3 separate regions of the Homo sapiens genome follow, and regions 2 and 3 are each linked to region 1. The links come from fine-mapping of genetic effects on gene expression. A gene starts in region 1. Each other region holds a variant in brackets. All regions are shown on one strand. Distances are from middle to middle.

What was found. PIP is the estimated chance that this variant, and not a neighbour inherited with it, causes the effect.
Region 2: its variant is fine-mapped to the expression of PNMA2 in cerebellum (GTEx, PIP above 0.99). The same link has a PIP of 0.9 or more in cerebellar hemisphere.
Region 3: its variant is fine-mapped to the expression of PNMA2 in lung (TOPMed, PIP above 0.99).

Annotation. Positions count from the first base shown.
Region 1 is chr8:26,512,552-26,515,307 of GRCh38, reverse strand. PNMA2 (PNMA family member 2) reads left to right here and starts at 1,436. Exons shown (of 3, transcript NM_007257.6): 1 at 1,436-1,492. It overlaps DPYSL2 (dihydropyrimidinase like 2), which reads right to left and starts at 1,277. Exons shown (of 14, transcript NM_001197293.3): 1 at 629-1,277. The coding sequence starts at 982. RefSeq lists an enhancer at 2,322-2,756.
Region 2 is chr8:26,464,841-26,467,596 of GRCh38, reverse strand. No RefSeq gene overlaps it. Among named protein-coding and RNA genes, the nearest start is that of PNMA2, 48 kb to the left of the region's middle. The variant G/C (reference allele first, on the strand shown) is at 1,346.
Region 3 is chr8:26,438,065-26,440,820 of GRCh38, reverse strand. No RefSeq gene overlaps it. Among named protein-coding and RNA genes, the nearest start is that of BNIP3L, 56 kb to the right of the region's middle. The variant C/G (reference allele first, on the strand shown) is at 1,592.

The sequences.
Region 1 (2,756 bases):
GTTTCCTCGGGTGACTCCACAGCCTTCCTGGCTCTTCTCACGCTGCGAGCAGGAGTCAAGGGCGGTGCGGTGCTCGGAGGGGGTCCGGGGGGCGCTGACCATGGTCCTGGCCTCGGAGCTCGGGACGTGAGCGCAGAAGGCGCGGGCGGAGGCTGTAGGGAGCGGCCGTCCGAACCCCCGCCCCTCCCGACCACCGGGGAGCCGCGGGCCTTCACGCAAAGCCTCCACCGCACGCTCTGAGCCGCTCAAAAAAAGGGTGGGGCACCCAGCCGCAGCTGCAATCGGAAGCCGCCCGGGAGGGTTTCAGAAGAATGGAACCGCGGCCAACCCCCTCCCAGACGACCACCGCCCGCCCCAGCAGGGGATCAGCCCATTCCCTATGCCCACGCCCCACCTCTCAAGCTCAAGGAGACGCGGGCAGCCTTTGTGGGCGCACGGCCGCCCACCGCCCAGCCCGAGCCTCGCCGCACCCTGCGCGGAGAAGGGGCGGGTAGGGCGGGGTGCGCGTGCAGATGCGGGAGGCGAGGTCCAGGGCGGGGCATGAAGGCGGGCGCGCCGGGCTCAGGGGCGAGGGAGGGGCGATCCCCGCGCCCCGTCCTCCGTCTCCACCCCCAACCCCCACACCGACCTGGTCGTTGATGTTCTGCAGGGCTTCTTTGCCCGAGGCCCTCCGGATCTCCACCTTCCGGCCCGATTCAACAGATGGCTCTCCGCCGGCGCGCCGGCCCTGCCGCGAGTACGGCGGCTGCGGGTCCGGGCCCAAGTGGGCGACGTCCCGCTGCTGAGCCACCACCTGCCCCGAGCCCCGGCCCACCGACAGCGAGTCGAAGTCGATGGTCTTGTTCTCCGAGGACCCTTCCACCGGGCAGAACATGCCACAGAATTTCTGCCGGGGCTTGGGGCTGCCGGAGCCCAGGTTTTTAAAAAAAGCAGGGACCTCTTCGTCCTCTGCCGCCTTCCCGGATTGCTTTCTCTCGGCCATGGCTCGGGGGCTCGGGTAGGGTCCTCGCCGTCCGTCCGTCCGTCTGCCAGTCCCTAAGTCTCCCTCGCTGTGTGCACAAGCCCCCTAGCTGCTGCCGCGGCTGCCGTTCGCCGCCCACCGCAAGGTGCACAGAAAGGAAGGAGGGCTGGCGAGCCGGCGACCCACCCTCCCGGTCCCTCCCCCTGACCCCGCTTCTCCCCTCCCTGCCCACGCCCCCCGCGGCTACAGCGCGAGCTCGGGGAAGCGGCAAAGTTGGATCTGGGAGGGCGTCCGCTGCGGCTGCGGGAGCCGAAAGGCTGCCAGTTCCCGGCAGCGCTGGGAGGAGGGAGGCGCGGGCGGGGCGCGGCGCCGGGGAGGGGAGCGGTGCTCAGGGGAGGGCTGGAGGGGAGGGAAGGAGAGAGAGAGGGGAGGGCGGCACCGCCCCTAGCCCCGCGCTCCGGAAGTGAAGCGGCCAGACCACCAGCTAATGGATGCGGAGCGGAGGGCCCGCTGACCGCTCTCCGCGCCTGGGTAAGTATCGGGCAGGGCACGCGGAGTGAGGACCGGAGGACGCAGCCCCCAGCCCCAGTGCCCCTCTCCTCCACCTGCCTGGCCCAGGCGCCTCTGCCCCGCCGCATGGCGGAGGTGGGCCGGGGGCGAGGGCGCACTGTGGATAGGGGTCCCGCCCCGTTACCCTGGGTGTGAGCTGATGGATGGGAAAAGGGGACAAGCCGGGCGCCAGGCTACTCAGGGTGTGGGAAGCGGGATGGCACTGAAGATGAGCAAGGATAGCACAGGCAGGGTGGACAGGAGGGGGGCAGCCAAGACGCTGGACACCCCAGCTTCAGTTTGTCCACTCGCCTTGGCAGGCTGCAGGGAGCAGAGACTGAAACGAGAAGGTTCCCGCTTCGTGCATCCACTTTGGTGTGGTTGGGGTGACGGGGGAGTGGGGGGGGGGCACACAACATGGCGGGAAGAAATTCAGAGGGGCGTAGCAGATGGGAGAGGAATATAGAGAGAGACGCAGGTCTGCGGTCTATGGGGGTGTAGCAAAGAGTGCAGTCGGGAATTCCAGCCCAGGGCCACGACTTAAAGACGGGGTGCAGACCGACTCTATTGCGCAAGGCGCCATGGACCGTGTCTGCGCCACTGCGCCAAGAAGGGCGCAGGAACGTGTCGCGATTTGGTTTATTCTGCTTCCTCCACCAAAAAAAAAAAAAAAAAAAAAAAAAGAGAGAAAAAACAAACTGAAACCCCCTTCCCAAATCTCCAGCTTTCCCCTGCGCCCCAGAGCCCCGCCTGGTTCCCCCGCCCCTGTTGCGCACTGCGCCACAGTCGCAGCGTTTCCCGGGTTACCAGATGCCACGTGTTTGGGGAGTAAGTGCGGGTGCGCATCTGGTGCGGAGTAGGAGGTAGGATGTGGGCTGTGAGTGCCATGAATTGTGTGGGGCCAAGCAGGGGAAAGGTGTGTAGGAACTTGGTGTGTGTGTGCAGTAGCTGAGCCACGGCCACCGGGTTGGTAAGTAACCAGGGGGCAATTAGATTTGTGTGCCTAACACGGTCAATGCTGGTCCTTCATTGCTTATTCCCATCTCCACGTCCTTTCCGCGTATCAGTCCCTGCCTCTGCGCGATGACAGCTCCGCCTCTCTTTCCACAGTGGCAAAATCCTGCAGAAATGGTGCCCCTCCTTTGGTGGCCCGGGAGGGAGTTCTGGGCATGCTCAGTAACCAGGGTGGGTTTGGGCTGAGAGGCCGTTTACCGCAGGGCCACCGCGTAGGGCCGTGTAACCAGGG
Region 2 (2,756 bases), 48 kb after region 1:
AGAAAGAGGAAGTACGGCACACCACGCAGGGTCACATGGGGAGGCACCAGGGTGGGTCAGGAGGGGGAGGGAGAGAGGCTGGAAACACCAGCAAGAGCCTTTATTGTGGTTTCCATGGTAACGGCCAGGCAAGGCAGGGCGAGCAGGCTGAGGACTGCCAGTGGGCTCTGCAGCATAGGAGCTGCCCCTAGTTTCCTCATACCTGGCCCTAGGGTAGTTAGGGCAGAGGCCCGGAGTTTCATCCTCTGTCATAGAGACAGGTGGGGGTGTGGACCTTGGATTGGCTGGTTTCCAATATGGAAGGCACACTTGCAGGCAAGTGGTTACCATCTCCAGGAATTAGCTGGCCCCGGGAAAGGTGGTCTCTCCAAGATCAGCAAGGCCGCAGATGCCAAATCATCAGCAAATACAGAAAATAAAACAACGTGAGGAATACAAAAGTTTCAGTTCAACATGGGAACTGAGGATCATGAAACAAGGATAGTCAAAGTGCTGGCAAATTGGAAGGGAAGAAATGGTTATATGGGAGTTAGCCAGACATGGTGGCACACACCTGTGGTCCCAGGTACTATGGAGGCTAAGACAGGAGGATACCTTGGGCCCAGGAGCTCAAGGCTGCAGTCAGCTACAATCACACCACTGCACTCCAGCCTGGGCAACAGAGAAAGACCCTGCCTTTAAAAAATAAATTATAAAAATAAAATAAAATAAATGGTTATATGAGGACCTACTAGTTCTTTAACAAGGACCTCTGGGGATGCTTTAAGGCTGCCCACAAACAGGCTGACTTTAGCCTTCTAGTGTCTTATGTCTAATGTCTTAAAGGCAAACCTTCATGTAGTTTAGAAACAGAAAATGGTCTTCCCAGCTAGAACATTTTGTCTCCCCAGCTCATGGAACACAAAAATAAAGGCAAATGTCTGTGCAAAGAATTTTTTTTTAATGAGTGAATTTATGTGAAAAACTTGACAAAGATATACAATTTAAATCACATTTAACTGGTACATTTAGCAATTCATCTCCATTCCAATGAATAAAATAACAACCATCTGAGCTATTCCAGAAAAACCCTGCAAGGCAGCCTGCTCCTCTGCGTGCGGGGACGTCTGCTTTCCATTAGGTTGAGGATAGATCCAGCTCCCCCTGCTGATGCACTTCCAAGGAAAAGGCAGACGAAGGGAGAGGCTGCCAGGCTGGCAGAAGGGCACATGTACAGGATGGCCATGTGCAAATCCACCCAAGTGGACCAGCCATATTCCCTGCAATCTCTGATGCAGCCAAGTCCAGCTGAGACATTAAACAGAGTCCGTGGTGACAGGAAGCTGAGGCTGCCTAGAGCCAATGC[G/C]TCTGGTGTAATTGAAAAGGTCTTTGGCCAGTGGCACTGGGGGCAACAAGTGCCGTCCTCTGAGATGGCTGAGGCCATTCCTCCACCCCCTTCCTCTGCGGTCTTGGCAACTGCACTTGCTCCAGCACAAAGAAACGCTGAAGCTGCAGGACGGTAGTGACCCAAAAGAAAGAAGGGTACCGTCAATTCCTTCTCAGCTTCCCATCAGGACAGAGGCATCGAAGCCACTGGCTATGGGTTCCCATCCATTGTTGTAACCATCAAACATGAGCACACTCCCTCCAAGCCAGGAACTGGGCAACGTGCTGTGTGCATAACCCAGCTATGTGCTGGTGATGCCAAGAAAAACCCCAGGCTGCCCTTTCATAAGGTCAGCACCCAAGACCCGGGCGAAGAAGGAAGGAGAGCAAGGAGTCTCCCAAAACCAGCAATCACTTCTCGCTGGTTGGACCGGACAGTGCTGGGAGTGGAAACAAGACACATCCTCTCCACTCTCAGGAATTCAGTCTAGTGAGGAAGCCAAGGAAGGAATGCAAACAAACACTTCTGAGCCGACGTGGTGTGTACAGTGAGAGGAGTGTGGATTTAGCATAGAAATAGCACAGTGGGGCATTTGAGCTGCATTTTAAAGCATAGAAAGGATTTCAGCAGAGCAGGGAGGAGAGAGAATTGATGATCCAGCCAGAGGAGCACAGTGTGCACAGGCAGGGAGGCAGATGCTCAGCACACGCTCAGGAGAGGCAGGGGGCTGACTGCGGCTGGAGGGAAGAAATGCAGGGGCCAAGAGGGTCCCTCTTAATAGTCAGAGGGACCAGGGGGTGGGAGGCCCTGGAAAGCCAGAGAGGAGGTTATGTGCAGTTGGTTCATCCATCAGTCATTTTTTTCTTTTTATTAAAGACGGAGTCTCACTCTGTCACCCAGGCTAGACTGCAGTGGCGCAATCTCGACTCACTGCAACCTCCATCTCCTGGGTTCAAGCAATTCTCCTGTCTCAGCCTCCCAAGTAGCTGGGATTACAGGCACGCACCACGATGCCAAGCTAATTTTTTGTATTTTTAGTAGAGATGGGGGTTTCACTATGTTGGCCAGGCTGGTCTCGAACTCCTGACCTCTGGTGATCCACCTGCCCTGGCCTCTCAAATTGCTGGGATTACAGGTGTCAGCCACCGTGCCCAGCCCATCAGTTATTTTTGAATTAGGGGCATGAGGTCAGAGCTGCACTTTGGGAGATCTCTCTGGCCACATTGGTGAGGTGGGGCAGGAAACTCCAGAGGCAGAAGACGGTCAAGGCCTTGACAATGGTCACACGGGAGGGAGGGACTCCTGCCTAGAGGTGACGGCCCAGGAAATGAGGGCCATGAAAGGAAAGAAGCAGCCAGACTTGGAGCAGGAAAGGGGAGGCCATGGAGAG
Region 3 (2,756 bases), 74 kb after region 1:
GCTCTGCGGTGTGGCTTATGTTCCAGAACCGTCCCCGGTGGATTAAGCCAAACATAAGCTTTACTTGAGACCTCATCTTTGCTGGGCCCAGCTCTTCCCCGTATCTGTCCGCTTACCTCTCTCCAGTACAGCTTTTCCTGCACAGCGCTCGTTCAATTAACCACATTCATGTTTGTCTCAGGTTCTGTTTCTCAAGACTTGATCTAAGACACGGTGCTTTCAATAAATAAAAGAAAATGCCACGGACAGATAAAACGTGTATGGGAGGCGACCACAAAACAGGGGCTAAAGGAAACTCCCAGATTCATTTTAGAAAAAGAAGAAAAGAGAGTTACAAGAGTCTGATTGTGGGGGAGGGAAGCAGAGAAAGAGCAGCTTCCTGTTTGTGTCTGGAGTGCAGCACACTGAGCAGTGTTTTGCCTGGTTTATTTCCAAAGTATTGCAGGGCAGCTGAGAGCTTCCACAGTAAGGATCAACCCATCTTTTTGACCAGCCCCGGTCAATGAATTACCTGACTCATGCAAGTCAGTAGACTCCACCTGTTCTTTGTTTTTCGGTTTTCGTTGTCTTTTTTAAACAGAGTCTTGCTCTGTCACTCAGGCTGGAATGCAATGGAGTGATCTTGGCTCACTGAAACCTCCGCCTCCCGGGTTCAAGTGATTGTCCTGCCTCAGCCTCCTGAGTAGCTGGGATTACAGGCACGTACCACCATGCCCAGCTAATTTTTGTATTTTTAGTAGAGATGGGGTTTCACCATGTTGCCCAGGCTGGTCTCAAACTCCTGGCCTCAAGTGATCTGCCCGTCTCGGCCTCCCAAAGTGCTGGGCTTACAGGCGTGAGCCACCGTGCCCAGCCAGTAGATCCTTTATGATGTACCTCACTTAAAAGCTACATTTTAAACGGAATAGTCAAACTCCAATAATGACTGTGGTCTTTTTCCTTTTAGAGACCAGACTGATCTACTAATAGTGTAATTCAAAGATGGCTACAAAGGCCAAAACTAGCCAAACCCTCCTGGCCCACTGTGACCACTAAGGTTCCACCTACAAGGACCTAGTGAAAGTCTAATAAAAAGCTGCCTGGCTGGGTGCAGTGGCTCACACCTGTATGTAATCCCAGCACTTTGGGAGGCAGAGGCGGGTGGATCACTTGAGTCCAGGAGTTCGAAACCAGCCTGGGCAATATGGCAAAACTCTGTCTCTACAAAAAAATACGAAAATTAGCTGGGCACAATCACACACAACTGTAGTCCCAGCTACTCAGGAGACTGAGGTAGGGAGGATCGGTTGAGCTGGGAGGTGGAGGTTGCAATGAGCTGAGATCTTGCCATTGCACTCCAGCCTGGGCTATAGAGTGAGACGCTATCTCAAAAAAAAAAAAAAAAAAAAGATAACAGCACTGGGGTCGTCACCAGATCAGAAAGCCAGGAAGAGGGTGCTGCCCAGACCCAGGGTGCCTGGCACTGGCACCCAGCCCCAAGCTCAGCCCAAGCACCTCCTGCCTCTCAGGGCTGGCTGGAGTTTGCTCCCTGATGGGAGACCTGGATTACCCAACCGTCCTCAGACCATATAATACCTAAGTACTTGAGGCA[C/G]TTCTGACTATTGTCAGCTGAGTCTTGGCTCAAGTTTTGTCGACAAAACGGATTAATTTATAACTAAGGTTAAAAACTCTTAAGTGAAAGTTAACTGATTCTGCCCATTTTCAGGGGAGAATGAGAGACACCTCAGAAGCAACTATGGTGGCTACTGGAGGGTCACATGAGGGATCATGTGGGGACAAGCCCAGATGGTGGACTCTTAGGGACAATTGTTTATAAAATGAGCCAAGCATGGTGGCTCACCCCTATAATCCCACCACTCTGGGAGGCCGAGGCAGGAGGATCACTTAAGACCAGGAGTCCAAGACCAGCTTGGGAACATGGCAAAATCCCGCCTCTACAAAAAATACAACAAAATTGGTGGGGCATAGTGGCACATGCCTATAGTCCCAGCTGCTCGGGAGGCTGAGGTGGGAGATCACTTGGGCCCAGGAGGTCAAGGCTATGGTGAGCGGTGATCACACGACTGTATTTCAGCCTGAGCAACAGAGTAAGACCCTGTCTCAAAAAAAATAAACATAGAAATAAAATGAGTGTGCATCTTACTAAGGTGAATGTGTTTAGAGAACAATCATAACTGACATTCACTGAGCACCTGCTGCTTCTGGACACTGCCCCATACTCTACACGTATCAGCTCAGTTAATCCTCACAATAAACAGATACTATTATCATCCCCCTCCCTTTTTATTGTGGTAAAATCTACATTACATTTGCCATCTTAACCATTTGTAAGTGTACAGTCCAGTGCCAATTAAATGCACACAAATTGTTGTGCAATCATCACCACCATCCACCTCCGGAATGGTTTCATCTTGCAAAACCATAATGCTATGCCCATTAAGCAATCATTCCCTCCTCCCCTTCCCCAGCCTCTGGCAACTCCATCTACTTTCTGTCTCTATGAACTTGACTCCTCTATGTACCTCATATAAGTGGAATCACACAGTACTTTCTTTTTGTGTCTGGTTTATTTCACTTAGCATAATGTCCTCAAGCTTCACCCGTGTTGTGTGTAGCATGTGTCCAAATTTCATTTCTTTTTAAAGCTAGATAATATTCCCTTGTACATTCAGCCGCCATTGTTTATCCGTTCATCCTTTGACGGGCACTTGAGTTGCTTCCACGTTTTGCCTATTCTGAATAGTGCTGCTGTGAAC